Regions from separate parts of the Homo sapiens genome. Here all the other regions are reported to be linked to region 1. Evidence: microRNA targets listed by miRTarBase, many of them from high-throughput screens and not tested one by one. Region 1 holds a microRNA gene; each other region holds the end of a gene's coding sequence.

The links. The annotated mature microRNA hsa-miR-3161 reads CUGAUAAGAACAGAGGCCCAGAU and lies in region 1 at 2,522-2,544, opposite strand. An mRNA with a match to its seed (bases 2 to 7 or 8) in the 3' UTR can be bound and repressed. Matches are read on the target gene's strand: a 7mer-m8 pairs with bases 2 to 8, a 7mer-A1 pairs with bases 2 to 7 and ends in A, and an 8mer does both.
Region 2: the mRNA of EFNB2 is a reported target of hsa-miR-3161. Seed matches in the 3' UTR shown: 7mer-A1 at 2,812-2,818 and 7mer-m8 at 2,590-2,596.
Region 3: miRTarBase lists PRDX3 as a target of hsa-miR-3161. Seed matches in the 3' UTR shown: 7mer-A1 at 1,018-1,024.
Region 4: the mRNA of NGRN is a reported target of hsa-miR-3161. The part of its 3' UTR that is shown has no 7-base or 8-base seed match.
Region 5: miRTarBase lists VMP1 as a target of hsa-miR-3161. Seed matches in the 3' UTR shown: 7mer-A1 at 2,500-2,506 and 7mer-m8 at 2,421-2,427.
Region 6: the mRNA of SRP54 is a reported target of hsa-miR-3161. Seed matches in the 3' UTR shown: 7mer-m8 at 514-520.
Region 7: the mRNA of TYRP1 is a reported target of hsa-miR-3161. Seed matches in the 3' UTR shown: 7mer-m8 at 2,501-2,507.

What each region holds. Positions count from the first base shown.
Region 1 is chr11:48,095,267-48,099,334 of GRCh38, reverse strand. It overlaps MIR3161 (microRNA 3161), which reads right to left and starts at 2,553; the gene lies at 2,477-2,553. All of the region lies in intron 1 of PTPRJ (protein tyrosine phosphatase receptor type J), which reads right to left. RefSeq lists an enhancer at 1,209-1,709.
Region 2 is chr13:106,489,310-106,493,377 of GRCh38, forward strand. It overlaps EFNB2 (ephrin B2), which reads right to left. Exons shown (of 5, transcript NM_004093.4): 5 at 436-4,068. The coding sequence ends at 3,731. It overlaps LOC124903247 (a long non-coding RNA gene), which reads left to right. Exons shown (of 2, transcript XR_007063940.1): 2 at 1-491. Among named protein-coding and RNA genes, the nearest start is that of EFNB2, 44 kb to the right of the region's middle. RefSeq lists enhancers at 3,171-3,671, 3,819-4,068.
Region 3 is chr10:119,164,763-119,168,830 of GRCh38, reverse strand. It overlaps PRDX3 (peroxiredoxin 3), which reads left to right. Exons shown (of 7, transcript NM_006793.5): 7 at 298-1,111. The coding sequence ends at 351. It overlaps SFXN4 (sideroflexin 4), which reads left to right and starts at 3,117. Exons shown (of 14, transcript NM_213649.2): 1 at 3,117-3,294. The coding sequence starts at 3,184. RefSeq lists silencers at 2,969-3,438, 3,480-3,666.
Region 4 is chr15:90,270,989-90,275,056 of GRCh38, reverse strand. It overlaps NGRN (neugrin, neurite outgrowth associated), which reads right to left. Exons shown (of 3, transcript NM_001033088.3): 3 at 2,846-3,869. The coding sequence ends at 3,269. It also overlaps the pseudogene PERPP2. Among named protein-coding and RNA genes, the nearest start is that of NGRN, 7.4 kb to the right of the region's middle.
Region 5 is chr17:59,839,635-59,843,702 of GRCh38, reverse strand. It overlaps VMP1 (vacuole membrane protein 1), which reads right to left. Exons shown (of 12, transcript NM_030938.5): 12 at 1,448-3,935. The coding sequence ends at 3,792. It overlaps MIR21 (microRNA 21), which reads right to left and starts at 2,437; the gene lies at 2,366-2,437. RefSeq lists a silencer at 1,182-1,376 and an enhancer at 2,662-3,391.
Region 6 is chr14:35,028,743-35,032,810 of GRCh38, forward strand. SRP54 (signal recognition particle 54) reads left to right here. Exons shown (of 16, transcript NM_003136.4): 16 at 319-825. The coding sequence ends at 410. Among named protein-coding and RNA genes, the nearest start is that of FAM177A1, 15 kb to the right of the region's middle.
Region 7 is chr9:12,708,476-12,712,543 of GRCh38, reverse strand. TYRP1 (tyrosinase related protein 1) reads right to left here. Exons shown (of 8, transcript NM_000550.3): 8 at 2,259-3,567. The coding sequence ends at 3,362. All of the region lies in intron 3 of LURAP1L-AS1 (LURAP1L antisense RNA 1), which reads left to right. Among named protein-coding and RNA genes, the nearest start is that of TYRP1, 17 kb to the right of the region's middle.

The sequences.
Region 1 (4,068 bases):
ATTATTCTTTGTAGATTTTGTTTTCTCCACCCATTTAAAAATGTGGAAACTATTCTTGGCTCTTGGGCCACCCAAAAACAAGCAGTGGCTGCATTTGGCCCATGGGCTATAGTTTGCTGACCCTTCCCCTGAATCATCCATTTACCCTGGACAGAGCCACAGGGATGGACCCGCAGCAGCTCAGAGCAGGGACCATGTGGTCTAGTCCTGATTCTATATCCTGGTTCTGATGATTACTAGCTTGAGATCTGAGCTAAATTTCGATCTTCCCCTCTGAAAGGAAGGATTATGGCAGGACTCTCCTCAAGCCCTTGAGAGAATTAAGCGAAATAACATCAGGCAGGAGGCAGATGTTCGAGAGAAGATAACTCTGTTATTACTATCATTGTTTCTAGATTTCAATCAACCCAATTTAAGAACACAGGGTCTCAATCCTTGTCTGAATTTCCAATTGGAGATTTTTGGTGGATAAGACATGGGAAGGAACAAATGAATACAGGTTATTTAAGAGATAAAGGCCGGGCGCGGTGGCTCACGCCTGTAATCCCAGCACTTTGGGAGGCCGAGACGGGCGGATCACGAGGTCAGGAGATCGGGACCATCCTGGCTAACACGGTGAAACCCCGTCTCTACTAAAAATACAAAAATTAGCCGGGCATGGTGGCGCGTGCCTGTAGTCCCAGCTACACAGGAGGCTGAGGCAGGAGAATGGCGTGAACCCGGGAGGCGGAGCTTGCAGTGAGTCGAGATCGCGCCACTGCACTCCAGCCTGGGCGACAGAGCGAAACTCCGTCTCAAAAAAAAAAAAAAAAAAAAAGAGATAAAATGATTTGAAATGTGGGTCCACTGGCAACAGAGGATGGTGCCTGGTGGTCAAGGCTGTGGGACCACAGCTGCCTTCTCAAAGCAGGCCCTGTGGTGTCCAGGACTTATGCAGCCTGGCCCACTCTGTGAGCCTCGGCATAAGCCTTGCATTTCCATAGATTTACCTTATCCCGCTAGTTACAGTAGAAACTGTTGAGGTAAGAGAAGTCACACACTTCCTACCCACCAGAGCCTAGCTCGTGGCCTTCCCCATTAAATGCTGATTCAGCACCCCCAGGGAACAGGCTAGTGAGTGGAGTTTTAATGGGATTTTCAGGGCCTGGAACAGAGCTGGCCTGGCCTCTTGTGGGTCAGACTGAATAGGCATGCGCGGACACCAAAGCCTCAAGGGCAAGCAGTGGAACTGTGTGATCAGTCATAAAGGGGACAAGATCCTAGGGATTGTCTATACCGACATCCTCTGTTTGGAGTTGAGGAAAAAGGCCCAGAAAGGTAAAGTGACTTATCCAGAACACCTGGATCTGAAACTCATTCATTCATCCCCTTCACTGACTGTGTCCCCTAAGTCAGGCCCTTTGAGCTCTCTAGGGACGGAGTGAAAGCCCCCTAGTCTTGGGTTGCTTAAAGGCCAGCAAAACCAAGAAATAAATAAACAAAACAAAAAAAAATTCAGGCCGGGTGCGGTGGCTCATGCCTGTAATCCTAGCACTTTGGGGGGCTGAGGCTGGGGATTGCCTGAGCTCAGGAGTTTGAGACTAGCCTGGGGCAACACGGTGAAACCCCGTCTCTACTAAAATACAAAAACTTAGCCGGGCTTGGCAGTGTATACCTGTAGTCCCAGCTACTCGGGAGGCTGAGGCAGGAGAATTGCTTGAACCCGGGAGGCGGAGGTTGCAGTGAGCTGAGATCACGCCACTACACTCCAGCCCATGCAACAAAGTGAGACTCCATCTCAAAAAAAAAAAAAATTTTCTTCAGGTGGAACCATTTAATCTGGCAAGAACAACTTTTCACATCTTACCATTTTATGTCTCCACTTGATCTTGTTCTGAACTTTTCAACATACACACTATCTTAAAAAACAACAGATGTAAATCAATGCTTATGTAAAGGAAAGGGTGAGTCACAAAAGCAGGACTCACATTTCAGGTACATTTTTCCATGTATCAACATACCTCAAATTCCCTGAATGAGCCATGTTGTCATCCCCTACCTTGGTTCATGCTGGTCCTACTACCTAGAAAGTGAGAGCTTCCTCACTCCCTCCTTTGCCCACTTAATTCCTGCTTATCCTTCTATGAGGACGAGCATAAACTCCCCTCCCCCAGCACAGCCAGAGCCTTCCTCAGTGGGTCCACGCAGCACTCACCTCTTACCACCAGGTGCTGGAATGTCTGTGGACCGGCCTGAGACTCGATACCCCATGCCTAGCACTTGAACTGACTGGCAGGGGGTCTGGCTGAATGGGGAACAGGAGGGTGGGCTGAAGGATGAGAGCAGGGACAAGGTCTGGGTGTGAAAATTAAATTTGATTTGGACAGCCGGAAGGAACCCAGAAGAGCACTCAAGCCAAGAAGAAGGTGAGAAAAAATTTCAATGGCAAGAAATCACAAAGGAGTAGTTCTCACAGGCTAGGAGGTAGCAGAACCATCCAGGGAACTTGGTAAAAACAAAGGCCCAGCACTATTCAACTTCAATCTGGGCCTCTGTTCTTATCAGCTCTCGAGGTGACTCAAAACCCTCTCCAAAGTTTGAGAACTACTGGCTTCAGGTACTTTAGAGAGACAATGTGGAAGGATGATGCAGCCCAGGGTCTGCTCTGATCTGAGGCAGCCACAGCCACAAGCCCCCAGGAAGGGCCTCAACAGCTCTGGGGGGTGAACTGAGGGGTGGTTTGGTTTGAGGAAAACTCAATCCAGAATAAATTGAAGACGTTCTTTAATGGTCTTTAAACAAACAAGGTTGTGGGGGTGGGGGCGGGCGTGGGAAACTGTTGGGCTAAAACCAGGATAGTTTTGGCGGAGAAAGTGGCCAAAGGGAGTGTCTCCCTCCGATGCCCTGTAAACTTCTGATAGCTTCTTCCAGTTCTCCCTTCAACAAATCCAGCAATCCAACAAATCTTAAAAACAATCCCATCGGCCTTCGCAGGAATTTGGGCTAAGAGTGATTTTCCTCACTAAGAACTCCATACGGTTTTCATACCAAGGTCAGGAAGAACAATCCTCTGCCCCACCCCCAGCGCCTGGCAGATCGTTTTCCTGCCTGCTGACCAGCATCATCTGTCCACACAGCACACGGTGGGTCACACTGCAGAGCCGTGCTTTGCTTTGTGTGCTTTCAGGAAAGAAAATCGACACTTAAAAGGCACAATGGGTGCAGACAAATTCTGTAAACGGCAATGAACTGTGATCAACTGAGTAAGTCAGCAATTTACAGAAAAAGAACAATGCTGTGGGAGTCAGGGCTGAGTTTGAGTCTCTGCCCCATAACCCACTAGCTGAATGCCATGGGTGAGCCACCAATTCTCCTGAAGTGTCAGTTTCCACATATTCATGGGGGAGCAATGTGGCCAACCACGGCTGTGGCAGGAAAGAACTTCTGCAAGCTCTTGCACAAAATAGATGCTTGAGGCAGGGCATGGTGGCTCATGCCTATAATCCCAGCACTTTCAGAGGCCGAGGTGGGTGGATCACCTGAGGTCAGGAGTTCAAGACCAGCCTGGCCAACATGGCAAAACCCTGTCTCTACTAAAAATACAAAAATTAGCTGGGTGTGGTGGCGTGCACCTGCAATCCCAGCTACGAGGGAGGCTGAGGCAGGAGAAATCACTTGAACCTGGGAGGTGGAGGTTGCAGTGAGCTGAGATCATGCCACTGCACTCCAGCCTGGGTGACAGAGCAAAAACTCCATCTCAAAAAAAAAAAAAAAAAGTATATGTTTGATAAACATTATAGCTGGCTATACCCATAAGGTGCACTCGTCTTCAGAAGTAGCAACATTTGGCTTTGAACAAAAGATATTCTCCCTCTCCTCCTACCCTTCTCTCTCTCTCTCCCTCTCAAACACACAATGGTATTTTACCCAGTTGAAGATCATTATTAGCTATTAACAATAACTACCACATTGTACAAATAAATTGCATTACAGAAAGAGTTGCTCTCTTCCAAAGTTTGCATTAACAAAGAAAAAGCAAAAATTCTCAAAGTCTCATAAGTCCAGTCCATCTTTCTTTGCCATCTAATA
Region 2 (4,068 bases), not on the chromosome of region 1:
AAAAATGAAGCGATAGACCGCTGCTTTGCTTCTATGGACACTAGATCGATCTGGAATTAAGTGTAAGATAAGAGTACATTTCCCTCTTTTTCCTGAGACAGCTAACTTTGTAGGTAACTATTCTGACTGTGCAATTCAGGTGCCACTAGAGAGATTTTCTGTTGAGGATTATTAGGATTTTATACAATTGCATATTATTTTTGAAATGAGAGTTTGTGGTTTTATGGGGAATAACGAGCTCACGGCTCTTAGCAAAATTAATATTTGTGTGATGTGCACATCCCGATTTGAAAAGTGGGCACACAGTGTCCATAGACAGAAGTCTCTGGATTAACTGTAATTTTGGGGGAAATAGAGTAAAGGAAGGCAAATTAAAATAACAAACAAAAAAGAAAGAAAAATGAAAAGAAAAGAAGAAAAGTACTTTGAAGGCACTTTTTCCATAGGAAAAAAATATTTTATTTTTTTAAGAACAAATTCAGTTTGAAACAGATGTGGAATGTGACTTCACGGATTTCATTTTCTGGGGCTAACTGCAATGTGAAACTAAAGCAGATTTAAAACCTATGACAGGCTATTAAAATAAAACAAAGAAAGAAAAAAATATTTATAACTCAGGCATAATACTGTGTTACTTACAAATTGGACAACGAAATTTTAAATAAATATTCATGGTACATAATTACGGCACAAATATGCAGCAATTTGGCAACCTTTTATACCATTTTTTCCTCATTACAGTGCAAAGGGGAATGACACTGCCGTTAAACAAGCTGTAGCTAAATACATTGCAAAATTCAGATTTTATACAAAACATCTTGCTTAGACTTTATAAAAAACCAACATTGCTCTATGTACACAATCTGGGTAAGAAAAGCCATTTCTTTCTTGTTTTCATGTGTATTTTTATTAAAAAGGTGAATAAGGCTACTGTAACACCCCAAATCCATAGACAGTAAAATCTGAACCTATTTACAGCATCTTCACTGAAACATGATGGTGCAAATTCCAAAGTCGGGTGACCAGGGACGATCATACAAGCAAGGCATTTACAGTAACTTTCCAAAGCTAAACCAACTTCAAACAAAGGGACAGTTGGTAGATTGTCATATTCTGCACCAGACACAAAACAGACGCACAGAACACTTTTCAATTGGTTGCAGGGAACTCTTTTATCAATTCATCTGATTTTTCACAGTTTAGCATAGAACCAAAACGTAGCCAACTGATGATACATACATTTGATTTCATTAAAATCAGACTATTTCCCATTTTTCCCCTTCTCGCCCCTCTCCCCCATCCTAAAAGTAACTTCTGATGGCTTACAAGAAACTCTTGCATGAATGCACAGAAAGGAGAGGTTGGGGTGATGGAAAGAATTACATATGTACTGTGGCTGGTTACCATGGCAACCCTCCACAGAAATATGATATAGATATATATAATATATATTGTAGATATATATTATACATATATGTACACATGTATACCACGCACCCACTCACACATACACACACGCACTTTGGACCAACATCATTTCCAGGTTCAGGAAATAGAGGATCATAATTTCTGTGACAACTCATTTTTGCAGGTACTCACTGGAGGTCTGAGAACCTTAAAATGCTGTCGCTACATTTTTTTTCCCTTCCAATTCAGAAAGCAAAGTGTTACCATAGTAACAGGACTATGTTAAAGATGTCTATTTTGCATAGCACATAAAAAGTAGGTTTCCTGTTTACTCTTCTTGTTTCCCAGAAGGGAGGGGGTGCGGGGGAGGACAGGAGGAGGGAGCCACAGCTAAATCGTCACCTGAAGCCCCCAGTGTGACCTGCTGGATTCTAGAGAACACTTCAGCCCATAAGGCAAGGGAAAACCCAACGCAGAAATAAACGCCGGAACATCTTGTCATTGTTAAATATATGATGCAGTCACATCGGCTTCCTGCTCTGTGGGGCTCGTACTTCCTAGTCTACGGTTCCGTGAGATGCCTTCGGAGGACTTGGTTATTTTTGCATTTGCTCTCATTATTGTTCTTTTTGGAATGATGTTGTTTTTCCCAGAAGTAGCTGTCCAATTTGTTTTTTTAAGCGCTGAGCATTGGGACCACTTAATTGCCACAAATGAATTTCACATCTTCTGGTGTGTACTGTGTGCAACCTTAAAATATATATTAGTAAAAATCTTTCATTTTATATCCCTTGTGTTCTATATACCTATTATAAATACGTCCTATCTTCCTTCTCCCCCTGGACATCATAATTTACTTCCGTCTTAAGGACTCTAAGAGGTCTGCCGTATGTGCTTCACCTTGACACAGAGCACCGGGCGCTGCAGCCTCCATCAGTACCGACCCTGCAGCCCTGGCACCCGGACAGCACCGCATAAACCAAAGTGTCGTAAGGCTCAATCGGGAGGGGAAGGAGGAACCTGGGGGGAGGGGGATCTGACCTACCTTTTATAGATAAGGATTCTTTAATAACAACGATGATGATGGAATTACAGCCTGTTTGACCTTTGGCTTTTCAACTTTTAGGTCAGATTTGGCTCTCTGCTATTCTCCTAAATGCTTTCCCTGTGTTTAATAAAATGTGATAAGTATAGCAGCTGAGTCTGCTTAAAAAATCATCCAAAGCAGACCGACTCTCCTACAGCTCGGAGCTGTGTATCTTATTGCCAGTACCACAACAGTCCTGCCCGAATATATCATCAGCGGCCTACTTTCTCCCTTCCCTCCAAGCCTGTTCCTTTCCCAACAATACCCGTCTTTGTTCCCCGGAATGAAGAGGGGCTTTTCTTCCTGCACATCGCTATTTGATAACAGCGAGTGCCTCCCCATGCACTGGAATCCACTGTGTGTGCTGTCGTGTCTCCTACTGGCCTCTTCGATCTCAGCAAAACCAAAGTGCTGTGCTACCTAATTGCTTTTTTCTTTTTTCCTTTCCAACTTTCTGTTTCAGAGGCAGCAGCAGTGAGCTGCAATTGCAGCCAGCCCTTTCCCCAGCCCCACTCCCTTCTATGAACTCCTAGCCTTCTTCGCAGACAGCCTAGCATCTGGCTAAAGGGCACCTTGTTAGCAAACACAATTTCTATGAACGGATTACCCATGGACTGAAGCTGTTGTTGCCAGCGGCTGGAGGAGGGGACTCCAGACATGAGTGTTCCATGAGTGATGCAGATGTGGAGTGGAGGTCTCAGGTGAGGTGCTGCAGAGCCCTGGGTAACAGAACGAGTGAGACAGTAAGGACTAAACTCTAGAGATCTTTGCACACCTTAACTAGCCCGAGGTCCGTGTGACAAGTCCGGTATGCACTGCGGGGGAAATGCACCCCAGGCAGAAGCCGGCCCTTCCAGGCGTGGCATCCTGGGGCACCTGCCAGGATGCTCACAGCCCTCTCGTCCACAAACCACTGTCTTCCCTTGGCTTCTGCAGAGGCCTGAGTGACCGCAGCACATGGCTTCGAGGAGGAGACGTGGGACGCGGCACAGCAGTCCGAATGGGCGTCTTCTGCACAGTCTTCCAGCTTCCAGGGAGCGTGTGTGTTCACCAAGGCCGAATGCTACAAGACTAGGTAAGCTGTCCAGCGCGACGGGCTCTTCCGAGGAGGAGTGTCCCTCTCCCCCGGTGCTGTGCTTCAGTCAATTCTCCAGCACGCGGGCTCTCAAACCCTCAAGGGAGGCATCGGGACATTAGGTGTCCTCTGGGAAAGCACAGGTACCACCAGGGTCCCTCTCAGACCTTGTAGTAAATGTTCGCCGGGCTCTGCGGGGGCATCTCCTGGACGATGTACACCGGGTGCCCGTAGTCCCCGCTGACCTTCTCGTAGTGAGGGCAGAAGACGCTGTCCGCAGTCCTTAGCGGGATGATAATGTCACTGGGCTCTGAGCCGTTGTTGTTGCCGCTGCGCTTGGGTGTGGCCAGTGTGCTGAGCGACAGCGTGGTCGTGTGCTGCGGCGAGTGCTTCCTGTGTCTCCTCCGGTACTTCAGCAAGAGGACCACCAGCGTGATGATGATGACGATGAAGATGATGCATCCTGAAGCAATCCCTGCAAATAAGGCCACTTCGGAAC
Region 3 (4,068 bases), not on the chromosome of region 1:
CTAATTTTTTGAATTTTAGTAGAGACGGGGTTTCACCGTGTTAGCCAGGATGGTCTGGATCTCCTGACCTCGTGATCCACCCGCCTTGGCCTCCCAAAGTGCTGGGATTACCGGCGTGAGCCACCGTGCCCGGCCTAGAGACAGGCAGGCCTTAATGAAACTTTCATCTTTATGTTTTAAAGGAAATCTTTAAAAGTTTAAAGAACTTTAGGTTAAAAATTGGGAGATTGCCACTCACTTTTGGGACTATTATTATGGTAAAGTCACAGTTACCTAATTAAGCTTTTGTATTTTCAGATCAAGCCAAGTCCAGCTGCTTCCAAAGAGTACTTTCAGAAGGTAAATCAGTAGATCACCCATGTGTATCTGCACCTTCTCAACTGAGAGAAGAACCACAGTTGAAACCTGCTTTTATCATTTTCAAGATGGTTATTTGTAGAAGGCAAGGAACCAATTATGCTTGTATTCATAAGTATTACTCTAAATGTTTTGTTTTTGTAATTCTGGCTAAGACCTTTTAAACATGGTTAGTTGCTAGTACAAGGAATCCTTTATTGGTAACATCTTGGTGGCTGGCTAGCTAGTTTCTACAGAACATAATTTGCCTCTATAGAAGGCTATTCTTAGATCATGTCTCAATGGAAACACTCTTCTTTCTTAGCCTTACTTGAATCTTGCCTATAATAAAGTAGAGCAACACACATTGAAAGCTTCTGATCAACGGTCCTGAAATTTTCATCTTGAATGTCTTTGTATTAAACTGAATTTTCTTTTAAGCTAACAAAGATCATAATTTTCAATGATTAGCCGTGTAACTCCTGCAATGAATGTTTATGTGATTGAAGCAAATGTGAATCGTATTATTTTAAAAAGTGGCAGAGTGACTTAACTGATCATGCATGATCCCTCATCCCTGAAATTGAGTTTATGTAGTCATTTTACTTATTTTATTCATTAGCTAACTTTGTCTATGTATATTTCTAGATATTGATTAGTGTAATCGATTATAAAGGATATTTATCAAATCCAGGGATTGCATTTTGAAATTATAATTATTTTCTTTGCTGAAGTATTCATTGTAAAACATACAAAATAAACATATTTTAAAACATTTGCATTTTACCACCAGTAACTGTTGGATCAGCTTATTTTGGGCTCTCCTTTCCTTCTCAGATTATCAACAAACATTTATTGAGCATTTACCTCAGGGGCCACAAAGAGAATAAGATGCTGGTTCCGCACTCAAGGAACTCGGTTTAGGGGCAAGACAGATAGGGAAACATTTTCTCGTTGTTTCAGTAAATCCTTGAGTGCCTACCCCGCACCAGGTGCTGTTTTCCAGGCACAAGAGCGAACAACGGACAAACCCCTGCTTTTAAGCTCTTACATTCTAGAGGGGAAACACCTCATACATGTAGTAAAAGTAGAGTGTTTGGAAGGAAAATAATGTGGAGTGAAACTGCTGAAGCGGAGTTGTAGGTGTTCTAGATGGGGTTGTCAAGGAAGGCCTTAAGGGAGAGCCTCTCTGGATCAATTTTCTCATTGTAAAATGAGGACAATAATTGTACTTATCTCAGGGTTTTGATGAGCATCGAGGGAGAGAAAACGCGTAGAAAGTGAGAGTATTACGGGGATAAGAGACTTCTAGGCAGAGGGCAGGGAAAACACAAAGGCCGTGAGGCAAGAGTGGGCTCAGAGCGGATGCAGATTTACTAGGAGGCCGGTGACTATGGCTGTGGTGGGGGTCCCAGAGTGCCTTTTGGCCAGGCCAAGGACTTTAGGTTCTGTTCTGGGGTGGGGAATGTCAGGAAGGATTTGAAAAGAAGAGTGACATCAACTTGTTCTAAGAGAATCACTCTGGCTCCTTTGTTAAGACGACATAGCAGTCCAAAGTGGGGAAGCAGGCCAGCGGGCTGGCTTTGTGACATCCTGGAGGGTAGAGACAACAGAATAGAACAGCACGCTACATACTGCACTGGTGCTTAGATGGATTTCTGCGGCATAAGGGTAGAAGTGGAGGGGGCACCTTACTCAACTCGGAGGGTCAGGGAAGGCTTCCTGGAAGAGGAGATAAACCCCTGGAGGTTAAGAAAAGTGAGCTAGGCAAACTGAGCAAATACAGAAGCAGAGTCATACAGGCCTGAAGGACGCCATGAGCCAATTTCCTGTTCCTGGAGGCGCAGGGCAAGGGAAGGAATTGGCCCGCTGGAGGTTAATGGCCAATACTGAGCACTTCTGAGGGCTCAGTGCTGTGTTAGGGATGTTTTATCTCCTTTGATCAGAAACAAAACCCTGAGATAGGTACAATTGTTATCCTCATTTTGCGGATGGGAAAATAGACTTCGAGATACTGACTTGGCGAGGGTCACACAACTAGATGATGTGCTGGGTCCCCCAGTCCTGGACTCCGGAGGCCCCCTGAACGACCTAGGCACACTTGTGGCTTCCGTGAATTTAAGTGCACACAGCCCCCGCCTGGCCCTGTGCTGGGGAAGGGCAGGTGGGAGGAGGAAGGGAAGGCAGGTTTTTCTTTACAAATGGTACCTATTTGGTAGTCAACAAAAGGAACTGGATTTGCCCCAACACTGGAAGAAAAAAAAAAACAACCTGTTGGGCTGAGGGATAGTGCACTGTGCCCAGGGCCCTATACTTGGTTTGATGCTCTGGTGTTACTCTCTTGAAATTCTCAGTAACATGAATAAGGGGCACCGCATTTGACATTTTCCCTGGGCTGAGACCATGATGCAGCCGGCCTGACTGCGCAACACCATGCACACTGGAATTCGTGGGCCATCGGAGGGATTTTCGAGGGTAATGACCAGGGGTAGGGCGCGGCAGAAGCGCAGGGTGAGGTTGCGGACGGCCTCACTCACAACCTTTCCGGGTCTTCGCATTAGGTACTGTGATGACGGGTTCCGATAGTGACCCCTTGGGGCCTGGAGACGGCCCGGCTCCCCAAAGGTGCGGAGCAGGGCAAGCAGGGTTGGGAGGACGTGGCCCGTGGGAGAGCTGCGCTCGCCGGAACAGTGGGCGCGCAAGGGCCCCGAGGCGCTGTGACACGGGACGTCGGGCGCGCGGGCCTGGGGCGGGAACTGCGGGTGCGCGCGGCCCGGGGCGGGGCTCGCCGCCCGGCTCCTCCTCCACGCGCGGCCTGGCGGCGGCGGCCACTCTAACCAGCGCAAAATGTCCCTGGAACAGGAGGAGGAAACGCAACCTGGGCGGCTCCTAGGACGCAGAGACGCCGTCCCCGCCTTCATTGAGCCCAACGTGCGCTTCTGGATCACCGAGCGCCAAGTACGGCCCGGGCCCGGCGCGACTAGGGGCAGGGAGGGGGCGGGCCGGGCCGCGTGGAGTCGGGCTGACCCGGGTGACCTTGGCCAGGCCACGTGGGCGCCCCCTGTCTCCGTTTCCTCCTCTCGGAGTTGTGCCGGGAACGCGCACCACCGGCCTTCACCCCTTAGGGCGCGGCAGGGGACGCAGGGGAAATCGAAGCTGCCAGATGCCCACGACCACAACGTCACCCTCCAGATTGCCCTCTCGGAGGGGCCCAGTCCGCGCAGGTGGCTGCTCCCTACTGCCTGAGCTGTGGCTGAGCAGCAGATTGGGGAGAAACAGGCTCTCGCACCTTGGTAAGCTCAGCCACTTTCGGTGAGACCCCCGAGGCTTTGGGAAGCCACCCTTGGGCAGGACATAAGCAGGACTTATCTCCCTGCAGCGTCTAGGGCAGCACCGTCCAATAGAAATATGATGTGAGCCTTACAGGTAATTAAACATTTTCTAGTAGCCACATTAAACAAGATAAAAACAGCTGAAATTTTTAACAATACAGTACATTTAGCCTAGCAGGTGCAAAATATTAACATTTCAACATGTAATCAGTAAAAAACATTGCTGAGATATTTTACTCGCTTTTTTGGTACAGAGTGTTCCAAATCCGGCGTCTGTTACCTTCACAGCACATCTGGGTTCAGCCGCATGTGGCGAATTGGAGAGCAGGGCTTTAGGGGGTTCTCTTTGAGGCCTCTCCTAAAGTGGGGTCCAGCCCTGTTTTTTTTTTAGGTGGGGAAA
Region 4 (4,068 bases), not on the chromosome of region 1:
CTGGGAGTCGCTAATTCTCGTATTTTTAGTAGAGACGGGGTTTCACCATGTTGGCCAAGCTAATCTCGAAATCCTGGCCTCAAGTGATCCACCCGCCTCGGCCTCCCAAACTGTTGGGACCACAGGCGTGAGCCACCGCGCCTGGCACAGTATTATTCTTTCGTGCTTGTCTTAAAGTTGTACATATGCTTAGAAAAATGTTGGTAGGATAGTAACTCTTCACTGGTGGGATCAGGGATGACTTTTGTTTTCATTTTGCTTGTCTTTTTCTTTAATGAGTATGTATTACTTGTGTAATAGATGAAGTAAAGCAGGAAGAAGGGTAGACATGGTATTTGAGATACAGCATTGGAGGTGTTTGTTTGTTTGAGATGGAGTCTCACTGTCACCCAAGGTGAAGTGCAGTGGCACAATCTCGGCTCACTGCAACCTCTGCCTCCCGGGTTCAAGCAATTCTCCTGCCTCAGCCTTCCCAGTAGCTGGGATTACAGGCATCTGCCACCACACCCAGATAATTTTTGTATTTTTAGTAGAGATGGGGTTTTGCCATGTTGGCCAGGCTGGTCTGAAACTCCTGACCTCAGGTGATCCGCCTGCCTCACGTGGTGGCTCACGTTGTAATCTCAGCATTTTGGGAGGCCGAAGCAGGCAGATCACCTGAGCACAGGAGTTCGAGACCAGCCTGGCCAAGATAGTGAAATCCTATCTCTACTAAAAATAAAAGATTAGCTGGGTGTGGTGGTGCATGCCTGTAGTCCCAGCTACTCGGGAGGCTAAGGAATGAGAATAGTTTGAACCCAGGAGGCAGAGATTGCAGTGAGCTGAGATTGAGCCACTGCACTCCAGCATGGATGACAGAGCAAGACCCTGTCTCAAAAGAAATAAAGGTCAGGCGTGTTGGCTCACGCCTATAATCCCAGCACTTTGGGAGGCCAAGGCAGGTAGATAACTTGAGGTCAGGAGTTTGAGACCAGCTTGGCCAACATGGTGAAATCCTGTCTCTACTAAAAATATAAAAAAAATTAGCTGGGCATGGTGGTGCCCGCCTGTAGTTCCAGCTACTCGGGAGGCTGAAGAATGAGAACCGCTTGAACCTGGGAGGCAGAGGTTGCAGTGAGGCAAGATTGAGCCACTGTACTCCAGTGTGGACGACAAGAGTGAGACCCTGTCTCAAAAGAAAAATAAAGGCCAGGCGTGGTGGCTCACACCTGTAATCCTAGCACTGTAGGAGGCCGAGACAGGCAGATCACTTGAGGTCAGAGTTTGAGACCAGCCTGGCCAACATGGTGAAACCCCATCTCTACTAAAAACACAAAAATTAGCTGGGCACAGTGGCAGACGCCTGTAATCCCAGCTACTCGGGAGGTTGAAGCAGGAGAATCAGTTGAACCTGGGAGGCGGAGGTTGCAGTGAGCTGAGATTGTGCCACTGTACTCCAGCCTGGGCGACAGAGCGAGAGTCCGTGTCAAAAATAAATTAAAAAACAAAGTTTTAAGAACAGCCTTTAGGTTTCTATAGCCCACTGCGAAAAGGGTATGGCATGATCAGATATTTGCAGGAGTGAGAAATGCAAATTTAAACAATCAAACAGCATCTAACACATCTTTAACAATTAAATACCATAAATATAACAAAACCATAAAAATACTGATAAGCTTCTACTATGAACTACATGATAGTGACAGGGCAGTGACAGCAAAGGTCCTATCTGCCCACTGTTGTATTACCAGCATCTGGATCGTAGAATTTTGCTTGGCATGTGACAGGGCTTTGTCATTTATACTGAGAACAGATCCTCAAGTTATCAATAATAATTGATAAAAGCAACAGTAATCAGTATTTTAATTGCTGTAATTGGACATTTGAAATAGCAGTAAGATTCTACAGAGTGGCAATGACTGAGTTGGAATGTAGGTGTTTCCATTAATGTCCTACATATATTTAAATTCGGAGTAGCCATTTTTCCTGGTAAATTGTGAAAGCAGGACATGGTTCTCCAAGGTTCACAGGTAAACCATCCCACCAGAGCACTAATGAGCAGACTGCTACATTTTACTTTATTTTGCTTGTAAGGAAAACAAATTGACTAAGCTGTCCCCGAATTTCTAGTTATAACAGATGTATTTCTAAAACAAGCAGTAAATTAACAAAATTATGGCAGACAGTGCCATATTCCCGGAATTCCAGAAGCCCTGGATTAATGATGAGACCCGAGTTAAGTCCCAGCACTGCCACTTACTGGCAGCCATCTTAAAGTCTATTTCCTTATTTGTAAAAGGGACCTCTTAATCCGGGATTGCCTACACCATGGCACCATTGTAAAAATCTGGTTAAGTAAACTGTATAATGAGACATAATTGAAGATCGATTGATTTTATTTAGAGATGGGGGTCTCACTGTTATCCCAGGCTGGAGTGCAGTGGTGCAATCATAGCTCACTGCAGCCTCAACCTCCGAGGCTCAAGCGATTCTCCCACCTCGGCCTCCCAAGTAACTGGGACTGTAGGCACATTCTGCCATGCCCAGCTCTTAATATAAACTTTAAAATGTGGCTGGAGATTATAAGGGCCCTAAAGCCTTTGCCTGCTTTGTATTTTCTGCCAACCCCTCATTTCCCAATCTCTGCCAGAACCCCAGCAACTAAAAGAAAGGCGTCCAGTTTTCAGTTGTCAGAATCCCTCACTAAGCAGGATGCTCTGCACAGAGCCCTTTGCTGGGAAATTCCTCTGGTTCCATCTCTCTCCCAATGTTTACTGACCAGGGATCCTTCCTTTCTGCCTTTGTCCTTCCCTCTCTCCAAGGTTCACAGGTAAACCATCCCACCCCAAAGAGCACCAAAGAGGCAGACTGCTACATTTTACTTTATTTTGTTGTAAGGAAAACCAATTGACTAAGTTGTCCCCAAAATGTTAGTGTTCACTGATCAAGAAGGAAATGAGGTCAGAAGGCAAACTTTTCACTTCTTCTCAAACATAAATTGCAAGTATCACAGAAAATTGTAACAACACATGCAACACGGGATGGCTTTCAACACACAGAGAGCCTAAGCAAGAAGAGTGAGTACTGAAGGTCTACAGAGGTCAGACTGGGAGCACTACCACAGGAAGTTTGAATCTATCCACGCAGCTCTTTCCTCCCACAGTCCAGGCTCAACACCTCTTCCTATTCCAAGGTGGCTTATCCATATGCAGAAATCCAGGCTGTTCCATATACATTAATACTTGCCCAGCTGTGTTTCACGAGGCATCTCCATAAGCCAAGCCCCGACTCAAATTCTGTACAGGAAGTTCCCGTTGCTGTCAAAGAACTCTCGGCCCCTCTGCACTACTTTGCTGCTGAAGTTATCTGGCTCCTCTGCCTTCAACTCCTCCAGCTTCTGACCACTTGGCAACGCACCACTGCCAGTTCCTCTGGGGCTCTCAGAATCACTGGAGTACTTCTGCAGCTCTCTTGGATGACCTAGGGGTGCAGCAACAGGCACAAAGCTCTCCTCCAGGTCCTGGATTTCTTTATTTCTTCCCTTCCTTCTCCTTGGTGTATTTGTCCTGTGAGTGTCTGACTCTATCACTTTCAAAGCTGTGCTGTGATTTGGGTCTTTAGATGAGGCTTCATGCCCTGGCATAAGCAAAGAGCCTGATACAGAGTGGCCTGCAGGGAGCAGCTTTGAGGTATTTCCAGAGCCCCGGAGGTGCTGCAGCGAGTGGGCAAGCCCAGCTTTCTTAAGGACTTTTTGATCCTGCTTCAGCTTCTGCTCCAATGTGGGTAAAAACTTGCTTTTTAAAACTCTTCGGATCACATCAGTGCTGACATCAAAGCCTTCAGCCAACCTGGGAACTGACCAGGACTCTGGAAATTCCTCATGTAAATACCTACGGGAAGAAGGAGCAGGTTTGCAAGTTGTGAAGAAGTCTCCTATCAGAACATCTAACTCGCAATACCTATGATAAAGAAGAGGGGTTGAGGCCTGGCATGGTGGCTCACACCTGTAATCCCAGAACTCTGAGAGGCCGAGATAGGCGGATCACTTGAGCCCAGGAGTTCGAGACCAGTGATTCTTGTGCCTGAGCC
Region 5 (4,068 bases), not on the chromosome of region 1:
GATCCTCCTGCCTTGGCCTCCCAAAGTATTAGGATTATAAGCATGAGCCACTGCACCCAGCCTATTTCAGTACTTTACATGTTACCAGATTTATTCCTTAGGTAAACTGTCCTTCTATCTCTTTTATTTTTATAGATGAAAGAAACTGAGGCTCTTTTAAACTTTCTCAGGTCACAAACAATGTAGAAGAAACCCGAACCGTCATTAACATAGACTATTACACATGGGGGAAAATGGGTTTTAAAGTAATATATATGGAAAGGCTTTTTGACACTGAAAGGTTGGGAATCTCTGTGATCTTCTTACACATGGGTCAGGCTAAACAATTTGCTTCAGGGTACATGAGCGCAACTGGTTATTTAGCTAGTGCATGATCCATACTCAAATGAGTCATTATTGAATGACTGGTGAAATGACAAAAAGCCTCATGTTCTACTAAGGCTGTGGATAGCACAGAGCACACTGGGGGCAGAGGCTGAGCGTGTTTGTGTAGGAGCACTCAATACTGCATATGTTTCAATAATTAACTAGTGTATTTAAGAAACTTCATTCTACGTGGGCATGGTGGCTCACGTCTGTGAACCCAGAACTTTGGGAGACCGAGGCAGGTGGATCACCTCAGGTCAGGAGTTCGAGACCAGCCTGACCAACATGGCCAAACCCCGTCTCTACTAAAAATACAAAAACTAGCCTGGTGTGGTGGTGGGCGCCTGGAATCCCAACTACTCCAGAGGCTGAGGCAGGACAATCGCTTGAACCTGGGAGGCGGAAGTGGCAGTGAGCCGAGATTGTACCATTGCACTCTAGCCTGGGCGACGGAGCAAGACTCTGTCTCAAAAAAAAAAAAAAAAAAAAAAAAAGTAACTTCATTCTAGCATTCGTAGGGAATGGAGAGGTGGCCACTATCCAAATGAAACTAAAAACCTTTTTCTTCCCAGACTCATACTCCAGATTATGCACACAGAGAATACAGAAAACTATGGGAAAACTGGACATTGCACATTTTCATATGACATCATCTGTTATTTTTTTTGTCTTGCTCTGTCACCCAGGCTGGAGTGCAGTGGCGCCATCTCGGCTCACTGCAAACTCTGCTTCCTGCGTTCAAGGGATTCTCCTGCCTCAGCCTCCTGAATAGCTGGGATTACAGGCGTGCACCACCACGCCCGGCTAATTTTTTATATTTTTAGTAGAGATGGGGTTTCGCCATGTTGGCCAGGCTGGTCTCAAACTCCTGACCTCAGGTGATCTGCCCGCCTTGGCCTCCCAAAGTGCTGGGATTACAGGTGTGAGCCACCGCGCCCGGCCGACATTGTCTGTTTTAAGGGAGGTATTCCTCAGCTCTTCGGTGATAAACTGCTGATGTATTGCACTGCCTGACAGTCACCAAGTTGGAACATGATAAATACTGCAGATGTGTAAGGCACAAAATGAGACTTATACAAAGTAGAGATGGAATCGCAAGAATTCCCAGGCCCTCTTTTTATTTACAGTGATACCAAACCATCCACTTGCAAATTCTTTGGTCTCCCATCAGCTGGAATTAAGTAGGTACTGTGTATCTTTGAGATCATGTATTTGTCTCCACTTTGGTGGATACAAGAAAGGAAGGCACGAACAGCTGAAAAAGAAGGGTATCACACCGCTCCAGCTGGAATCCAGCAGGAACCTCTGAGCATGCCACAGCTGAACACTTAAAAGAGGAAAGAAGGACAGCTGCTCTTCATTTATTTTGAAAGCAAATTCATTTGAAAGTGCATAAATGGTCATCATAAGTCAAACGTATCAATTAGACCTTCAACCTAGGAAACAAAATTTTTTTTTTCTATTTAATAATACACCACACTGAAATTATTTGCCAATGAATCCCAAAGATTTGGTACAAATAGTACAATTCGTATTTGCTTTCCTCTTTCCTTTCTTCAGACAAACACCAAATAAAATGCAGGTGAAAGAGATGAACCACGACTAGAGGCTGACTTAGAAATTTATGCTGACTCGATCTAAAAAAAATTATGTTGGTTAATGTTAATCTATCTAAAATAGAGCATTTTGGGAATGCTTTTCAAAGAAGGTCAAGTAACAGTCATACAGCTAGAAAAGTCCCTGAAAAAAAGAATTGTTAAGAAGTATAATAACCTTTTCAAAACCCACAATGCAGCTTAGTTTTCCTTTATTTATTTGTGGTCATGAAGACTATCCCCATTTCTCCATAAAATCCTCCCTCCATACTGCTGCATTATGGCACAAAAGACTCTAAGTGCCACCAGACAGAAGGACCAGAGTTTCTGATTATAAACAATGATGCTGGGTAATGTTTAAATGAGAACATTGGATATGGATGGTCAGATGAAAGATACCAAAATGTCAGACAGCCCATCGACTGGTGTTGCCATGAGATTCAACAGTCAACATCAGTCTGATAAGCTACCCGACAAGGTGGTACAGCCATGGAGATGTCACGATGGTAGGCAAAACAAGCAGACAGTCAGGCAGGATTTGATAAAAAAACAAAAACAAAAACAAACCAAAAAAACCCAGGCATTTCTGGCCTGTTAAGATCGAACCCCAATTCTATTCTATTCTGACATAATGCTCATAATGCTCCTAAAGGAAAAAAGTAAAATTGTTTATTTTCCTCCCAAGCAAAACAAAATGAACAAGTTCAATCAAAAACATCCCAATGGAAAAAAATCACACTAAGAATAAAACACTTACAGAACGGCAAGAAAACTGGGTTAACATATAAATTTGTGTCTGTTGAAACCAGAGTACATGCTAGAAAACATTAACACAGATACGACAGAGTGTGGTTTTTTTTTAGAAATGGGTAATTTCTCTCTCCAGTATCCTTTCACTTGTATGAGATATTTCTCCTCTCCTGTTTTCACAAACCAAGAAATCCCCAGGTAGGCCAATCCCAGAGGTGCCATTTAGCAGTATGCAGCAGCCCAGTTTCAGCATAACAAAACATGCCTTGGTAGTGGCTCTCTCATGCAAATAAAAGAAAGCTTAAGAAATTCTTGTTGTAGGTGGATTAGGCAAGGCTGCCATTCAGCTGGTATAAGCTAAAAGTAAAAAATCAAAACGCTCAAGAAAACGGACACAATTTTGGAATGATTAAAGATGTCTTTATAAAGTTTTTTTCAAGACTTCATTCTAAATACACAGAATAAAAAATGGTGTCAGCTCACTTGTAAGACACCAACCAGATTTTCCTTATACTGTCTCAAAATTTAAAGATCAATTTCCCCAGAGGGTGTGCAATGCATCATAAAATGGCCCTTTTTTGAGGATGGGAGAGGAAGGGTTGGGCAGGATGGAATATTAAATTGTAACATGATAAACATGCAAGACTGTTATCCAATCTAGATAATTTATATACATTTTGATGACTTAGGAAAACAAAGCAATCATTTGTGACAAGCCTAAAAAGCTTGACATATTTAACATACTTAGGAACTTTTTTTGTGCGGTGGGAATTCTCTAATTGTATCATGTGGGCCTTTTGAAAGTAACAAACAGAAGGCCAGTCTGTTGCAAGTTTGCTGCTGAACATCACATTCCACCCTAAGAAAACACAAGGTGGATTGCATCGAGGGTGGATACCTTACCTTAGCACAGAAGGAAAAAGTATGTCAGTGCAAAGTATGGACTAAACTGCTTTCAGGAAAAAAGTTGTAAAAATTGATACAGGTTGGAAAAGGGAATTTTCCTTCCCGGCTTGGAGTCCTCCCAATTTAAGGCAGAACCCATCCACTCCAATTTCTGCAGTTTAAAACTTTCTCTACTTATTTAGTTTTCTCCTCTGAGTTCAACCGCTGCTGGATTCGTTTGGCATAACTTTGTGCCATGGAGTTAATGATAGATAGGATGAAGTAACACACCATGACAACGACCAACTTTTCAAACATCCAGGACAACCAGTTTTCTCCCTGTAGAAATAAATGCAGAACAATGCAATGAAAAAGGCTTCATTAGTTCAGTAGTAAAAAGAGGATCATCTATAATGCTTGAAGTGTGTAACTTACAAAACCTAAAGAATTAAAAATGAAAAGTAAGCAACCC
Region 6 (4,068 bases), not on the chromosome of region 1:
CCTTTTGGATTTATAAGAAAAAAATTTTTTGTTTAGATTTATTGACTATGTGACCGGTAGTATCCTAAGATCTTTTTATGTATCACCTCATTTATTCCTCGCAATAACTCCGTAAGATAGGCTATTCATTCTCTTTTATTGATGAAGATAACTGGTGATAATACAAATTTTTAGGTGGTACGTTCTTTAAGGCTGATGACTAAATTGCAATCAGAATTCAGTATTTTTAGAAGTACTTATTAGGCAAAAGTAATAAATGTTTCCAGTTCTGCTTAATAATTCTCTGTTTTTAACTCTACTTCCCTACTTTTGCTCTAGGTGGTATGGCAGGACTTCAGTCAATGATGAGGCAGTTTCAACAGGGTGCTGCTGGCAACATGAAAGGCATGATGGGATTCAATAATATGTAAAGAAAATGCCTTAATATAAACTGACTCAGTTGAATACCTAATTTGCTGAGACCTCAGCGTTTCCCTTCTTTTTGCGAATTGGGGGGAAAGTGTATTTTTCTTGCTTATCATGCACTCTTTCCTTTTCTTCTCGCCCGCTTTTCCCCTCCTTTTCTTTTTCCTTCCTTCTTTCCTCCCTTTAATATAAGGGAGAAATACATGGTTTTTGTGGAAATCATTATATGTTTGCTTTAGATTTTCTTCTGTTTTCACCATCATAACACTTAAGTTAAATCATGATGTAAAATTTTAGTACTTAAAGGTTTTTAATTATCTCGAAGGCCAAGCATTGCATTTGTAAACAGTCCTGGTCAGTAGTTAAATAATGTTTCAATTAAAGTGCTGTAAAATAAACTTCAAAGTGGTTATAAGTTAAGGGGTTGTTAACTTTCTTTATGGTTAAACATTATCAGTTTATCACACTAAAAACTCAATGGAAAAGCCAGTAGATAAATGTCATTTAAAACTATGCCTGGGGCCGAGCACGGTGGCTCACGCCTCTAATCCCAGCACTTTGTGAGGCTGAAGTGTGGATCTCTTCAGCCTGGGTGACAGAAGGAGGATCACCTGAGGTCAGGAGTTCAAGACCAGCCTGGCCAACATGGAAACCCCGTCTCTACTAAAACTACAAAAATTAGCTGGGCGTAGTGATGCATGCCTGTAGTTCCAGCTACTCGGGAGGCTGATGCATGAGAATCTCTTGAACCCGGGAGGCAGAGATTGCAGTGAGCCGAGATCGCGCCTCTGCACTCCAGCCTGGGTGACAGAGTGAGACTCTGTCTCAAAAGAAAAAAAAAAAAGAAGAGGCCAAGCATGGTGGCTCATGCCCAGGCTGGTCTGGAACTCCTGAGCTCAAGTGATCCTCCTGCCTTGGTCTCCCAAAGTGCTGGGATTACAGGCCTGAGCCAGTGCACCCAGCCAATCATTGATTTTTTTTTTTTCTTTTTTGAGACAGGGTCTTGCTTTGTTGCCCAGGCTGGAGTGCAGTGGCACGATCTCGGCTCACTGCAACCTCTGCATCCCAGGTTCAAGTGATTCTCCTGCCTTAGCCTCCTGAGTAGCTGGGATTACAGGCATGTGACAAGACACCTGGCTAATTTTTTTTTTTTTTTTTTTGAGACAGAGTCTCCTTCTGTCACCCAGGCTGAAGTGCAATGGCATGATCTCGGTTCACTGCAACCTCCACCTCCCAGGTTTGAGCAATTCTCCTGCCTCAGCCTCCCTAGTAGCTGGGATTACAGGTACGCACCACCATGTCTGGCTAATTTTTGTATTTTTAGTAGAGATGGGGTTTCGCCATGTTGGCCAGGCTGGTCTCAAACTCCTGACTTCAGGTGATCCACCTGTCTCGGCCTCTCAAAGTTCTGGGATTACAGGCATGAGCCACTGCGCCTGGCCAATTTTTGTATTTTTAGTAGAGATGAGGTTTCACCATGTTGGCCATGCTGGTCTTGAACTCATGGCCTTGAGTGATGTGCCCACTCTGTCCTCCCAAAGTGCTGGGATTATGGGCATGAGCCACCATGCTTGGCCTAATCTTTCATTTTTTTAAAGCCATTTTTGTTATGTTTTCTACATACCAAAAATATACTTGAAGAACTTGATATACTTCGATGATAATAGCTAATGTATACATCTTCTAAAGGAAAAATAATTGCAAGTATTAGGTTGTCACTATTATATATTAAAAATAATGACCTGACAGGAGTTCGAGACCAGTCTGACCAACATGGTGAAACCCTGCCTCTATTGAAAGTATAAAAATTAGCTGGGCATGGTGGCAGACACCTGTAATCTCAGCTGCTCGAGAGGCTGAGACAGAGGAGTCGCTTGAACCTGGGAGGCAGAGGTTGCAGTGAGCCAAGATCGCGCCACTGCACTCCAGCCTGTGTGACAAGAGCAATACTCTTGTTTCAACAACAACAAAAAAAGAAAAGCCAGGCATGGTGGTTCATGCCTGTAATCCCAGCACTTTGGGAGGCCCAGGCGGGTGGATTATGAGGTCAGGAGTTCAAGACCAGCTTGGCTAACATAGTGAAACCCTGTCTCTACCAAAAATAAAAAAGAATTAGCCAGGTATGGTGGCACTCACCTAGTAGTCCCAGCTACTTGGGAGGCTGAGGCAGGAGAATCACTTGAACTCGGGAGGTGGAGGTTGTGGTAAGCTGAGAGTGCGCCACTGCACTCCAGCCTGGGCAATGGAGCGAGACTCCCGTCTCAAAAAAAAAAAAAAAAAATGACCTGAATTCTAAAATGAAAGTTAAAAACATAAATCATGAGACCGTGACAAAGTTGATTTGGTTTCTGGTTATCTTGGATTGCTGCATGGTTCATTTAGAACAATGGCTTTTAAATAAATTAAGGAATTGAAAATACTGGAATAATTTATTAATATTATGCCTATTCATTATTGACATCAAGTAGATAATATATATGGTATAACAGTGTATTTTGAATTAGTGTGAACTGATCTTCAGCAAGTGATTGATTTGTAGAAGTAAGAATGAAAGAAACAGTTTTTATGGTGCTAATTTTTTATGACTCTTGTTTAAAAAAGATCTTGTCGCCAGTAATCCCAGCACTTTGGGAGGCCGAGGCGGGTGGATCATGAGTTCAGGAGTTCAAGACCAGCCCAGCCAACGTGGTGAAACCCCGTGTCTAATAAAAATAAAAATTAGCCGGGTGTGGTGGTGGGCACCTGGAATCCCAGCTACTTGAGAGGTTGAGGCAGTAGAGTTGCTTGAACCCGGGAGGCGGAGGTTGCAGTGAGCTGAGATCGGACCACTGCACTCCAGGCTGGGCAACAAAAATGTGAAAATTCATCTCAAAAAAAAGAATGCAATTGAGATATTCTTGTTAACTTGGGCAAAGGTTTTATATCCCTTTAAAAACTAAAATAAAAAGGTTTTAGCTAGTTTTTCTGCTAGCTAAAGACTAGAATAACCCTGTAGAAAATTATATACCATATTAAAATGATGTATCTTGTGTTCTGCAGAAATCTTACTAAGCTATAAACATTTGACAACAGAGAAAATCCTGTTCTCCAAAGTAGTTTCTTACTAACTGATGCATACTACCTTTTCTAGGTACACGTTTGTGACTCTATTCTCAGGGTATCAATTTTGCATTTTGACCAAAAAAGGAAATTGAAATCTTTGGCCATAATAACCTTGATGGCTTCAGGCATAGTTTTAAATATTTGTGTGTCTGACACAAACAATATTTTTTAATATATATATATATATTTTATATATTTTTCAGAAGCAAAAATAACAATAACAAGATAGGCACAGCGACAAGACATTGACACACACCTGTAGTACCAGCTACTTGTGAGGCTGAGGTGGGCAAATCAGTGAATTGCTTGAGTCCAGGAGTTGGTGGTCACAATGAACTATGATTATTTATGAATAGTCACTGCTGATGAATAGCCACTGCACTCCAGCCTTGGCAACATAGGGAGGCCTCATCTAAAAAACAACTGAATGCAGTAGCTCATGCCTGTAATCCCAGCACTTTGGGAGGCTGAGGTGGGCTGATCACTTGAGCCCAAGAGTTCCAGACCAGCCTGGGCAACATGGTGAAATTCCACTACAAAATACAGAAATTAGGCTGGGTG
Region 7 (4,068 bases), not on the chromosome of region 1:
TGTTTCTTAGGAACACATTTTAATGCTTCCTCTATCATTTCTGATTTTGAGTCCTCTCCTCTTCTTAGTTTAGCTAAGGGTTTGTCCATTTTTTTATTTTTTTAAAAAAAACCCTTAATTTTCTGAATTTTCTCTTGTTTTATTATTCTGTACTTATTTCTACTCTAATTTTCATTATTTATTTCTTTCTGCTAACTTTGGGCTTAGTTTGTTGTTCTTTTTCTAGTTCTTTGAGGTATAAGCTAGGTTGTTCATTTGAGATCCTTAGATTTCAACGTAGGCATTTATTGCTACAAAATTCCTTTTTAGTACTTTTGCTGGATCTTGTAAGTTTTGATATGTTGTGTTTTTGTTTTCACTTGCCTTGAGATATAATTTAAATTCCTCTATGATTTCCTAATTGACCCAATGGTTATTTAAGAGTGTATTGTTTTTTCGTCATTGTGAATTTCCCACTTTCTTGCACTATTGATTTCTAATTTTACTCAATTGTGATCTTAAAAGATCTTTGAAATGACTTTTATCTTTTTAATGTTGGGGGGACTTGTTTTGAGGTCTGATGTAATTTATCCTGGAGTATGTTCCACCTGTGTTTGAGAAGAACATGTTGCTGAAGTATAAGAATATTCTGCTGCTGTTGAGTGGTATGTAATGTATATGTCCCTAAAGTCCAACTGGTGTACAGTGTTGTTCAAGTACTCTCTTTCTTTATAGATCTCCTACCTGGATGTTTTATACATTATTGAAAGTGGAATATTAGATTCTACTACTAGTATTGTATTGATATCAATTTCTCCTTTCAGATCTATCAACATTTGCTTTGTATATTTAAGTGCTCTGATATTGAATATGTATATATTTACAATTGTTATATCTTGTTAAATTGACCCTTTTATTATTATATAATGAACTTCACCTCTAGAGGAAGTTTTTGACTTTGTCTATTTTGTCTGATAGGATAGCCTCCCCTGCTTTCTTTTTTTTTTCTTTTTACCATTTTCATAATATCCTTTTCCATCTCTTTACTTCCAGCCTATATGTATTTTTAAATCTAAAGTGAGTCTCTTATAGACAGCAAGTCACTGGATCATGTTTTTTGATTCACTCAGCTACTTTAAGCATTCTTATTTGGGATATTAAGCCATTTACATTAAAATAATTACTGATTGCTGAGGACTTACTAACTGCCATTTTGTTAATAGTTTTCTGTTTTGCTCTTGTTTTAATCCTCTCTCTCACAGTCTTCCATTGTTAACTGACATTTTTGTAATGATTTACTTAAAGCTATATTTATATTATACTTATAATTTCAATATTATATAGTATTTATAATATAAGCTGTATTTATTTATTTATAGATGTGTACAACTTTATCTTATAATTATGATTATTTAGAATTAATGCTTTGAAACAAGGCTTTCTCCTCTCTCCCACAATCTATTCCATATTAATGAGTTTCTTTGCTTTTAACCATTCCAAATTATTTCTCATCAACGTTATTTGTGAACAGCACCATCACTACTATATTTATAAATATACAGCTTGATTATGACTCTCCCTGTTTCCTATTTCCCATGGAATTAATTCCAAGTATTAAGAATTGCATATAGGACACTCTGGTTTTATTTCCAATTTATCTTTTTACTCCCCTCCATAAAAACTATACTGTAATCACACTGACCTATTTTATATTTTAAAAAGTTCCATGCTCTTTTAAACTTCTGTGCCCTTGTCCATGCTGTCACTTTTGAATAAAATTCCCTTCTCTGCTTCTATATTTGGTAAATCCATTGGCAGTCCTTGAAGTACAAGTCAAACATGACCTTCTCAATTTTACAATTCTTATTTTCTTCTCTCTAAATCTATAGTGCCTTGAAATACTTGATATCTAGTATGTGCTTAATAAATGTTTCTGAAATGAGTAATTAGTAAGTCTACAAAAATATAAAGTGAAGTATTTAGTTTCATTGATGTTCTATATAAAAAGGCATCTTACATTACACAGTAATTTCTTTGAAAAGCTGTGAGTATACTGTATTTTAACAAATCGCAATGTATTCCAAGAGAATAAATTGAATAATGCTAGTGTAAAACATCCTATTGTTATATGCATGCTCTTTGATATATTTTATTTGTTTATCTTGTGTATATATAGCCTTAATATTTTTGAATATAGGAAAACCCAGTAACCAATCAGGGATACATAACTTAAACTTGTTTCTGTTTGTAGAATTTAGAATCTCAGTTTAGCCATTTTCTATAGTGCATGATTATTACTGTTATTATTTATTTTTACCAATTTTAATTAAAATATTCACTTATGACCACCTTATACAGTTCTTTGGAAGATTGTTTCATAGCACAAGATCAAAAAGAGAAAATATATTTCATGTTAGAAGAGAAGGGAAAAAATAGCATTCATATAGAACCAGATAAAAAAGAAGACCAATGAAATAATATGTTAATATTTTACTTGGAAAATACATAAAAGGCTGATAAATGATAAGATAATGCTATTTAAATTAAGCACAGTGATTGGAATACTATTTATAGAGCAGTATAAAACATGTTCTCCATATGCCTTCTCCATGGACCTCTAAGATGTTAGAAGAGACATTAGTAGGTGAAATGTAAGGATAGGTAGTTCCTTTTTCAGCGAATTGAGAGGCAGGGAAACACAGTGGCAAACACAGGCAATATCCATTGTTGCTTAAGAAAGTGAAGATTTTCCCTCTCCAAAGTTTGACAAAGATGGTGATTTTTGTTGTAGCCTTGAACCTGAGACTAAATAGTATATGTTGACTAAATAATATATTTGATTGGTCTTCAAACTGGAACATTAATTTGAAAAGGTTAATCAAAATTTCATTGGTTTATAACTACACATAATTAATTTTCTTTAATTAATAACTGTGGTTTTCTTTAAATCTGTTGACAAATATCCATGAATGGAAATGTGTTTATGTTTTAACATTTTAGAAATGCCCATTCATGTATTTTAAGTGGACATTTACTATCAAACATTATTTTCCTTTACACGTAAACAAAGCATGGTAGTTCACTTACTTATATCTTCACATACTCAACCTTTAAATCATGCCAAAGATCTTCACACTATCCTTAAATATCATGGAGTTTAGTGTCATTCACCATTTTAAATAGAACTGAAAATTAAAACCCATTGAAAAGATTCTGAAAGGGTCTTCCCAGCTTTGAAAAGTATGCCTAGAACTTTAATGCTAACATATGCTTGTATTAGAAAGAAGGTAATAAAGTGAAAGAAAATACAGTTAATAACTCAATCTATTATATTCAACCAGGTGGTTTTGTGATACTAATGCATAAGAGAGTAGGGCATTTGTTAGACCACAGACTGATTAGGATTCTGGAGTTTTTCATATTCTTCAGCATAGCATTGATACTGATCAGTGAGGAGAGGCTGGTTAGCTTCATCCATACTGCGTCTGGCACGAATCAGATAAGAAGCAGTCCCAAAAATGAGTGCAACCAGTAACAAAGCGCCAACTACTGCTATGGCAATTATCTCAGGTACACTAAACTCCCGACCTATTTGGAAAGGAAGATAAAAATAAAAAGACAAATATTAAAATAGTTATCACCAAAAAGTGGACAGATGAAATTTAGAAATGTCTATTTTAACAGAAATCCTCATATTTAATTTACATTGGCCACATGGCCTTGAAGCCACTTCCTGATTTCTTTTAATGAGTGGACCCTATTGGGATAGTCATTGTTATTTCCATTTCATTTTGTGAAAGTGAGAGAATGATGACTCAATGAGTCTGAGTCACTTACCCAGGTCACTTGGTTGGTAAGCAATAAAGTTGGCTTTGGAGCCCGGATATTTTAGAATATAAGTCTTGTACTTTTCCACTATGCCCTACTGCCTTTGTTGGGGAAAAGATTTAAACAAAAAACTTTTGAACTTCAAAATCTCAGAAAAATACCTAAGAGTATCTCACTCCCTTTTCCTTTAAGATAGATAAATGCAGGCAATATGGTATAGTAGAAAAATTGGGGCATATTCCATGGGCCTAAGCTCAAACT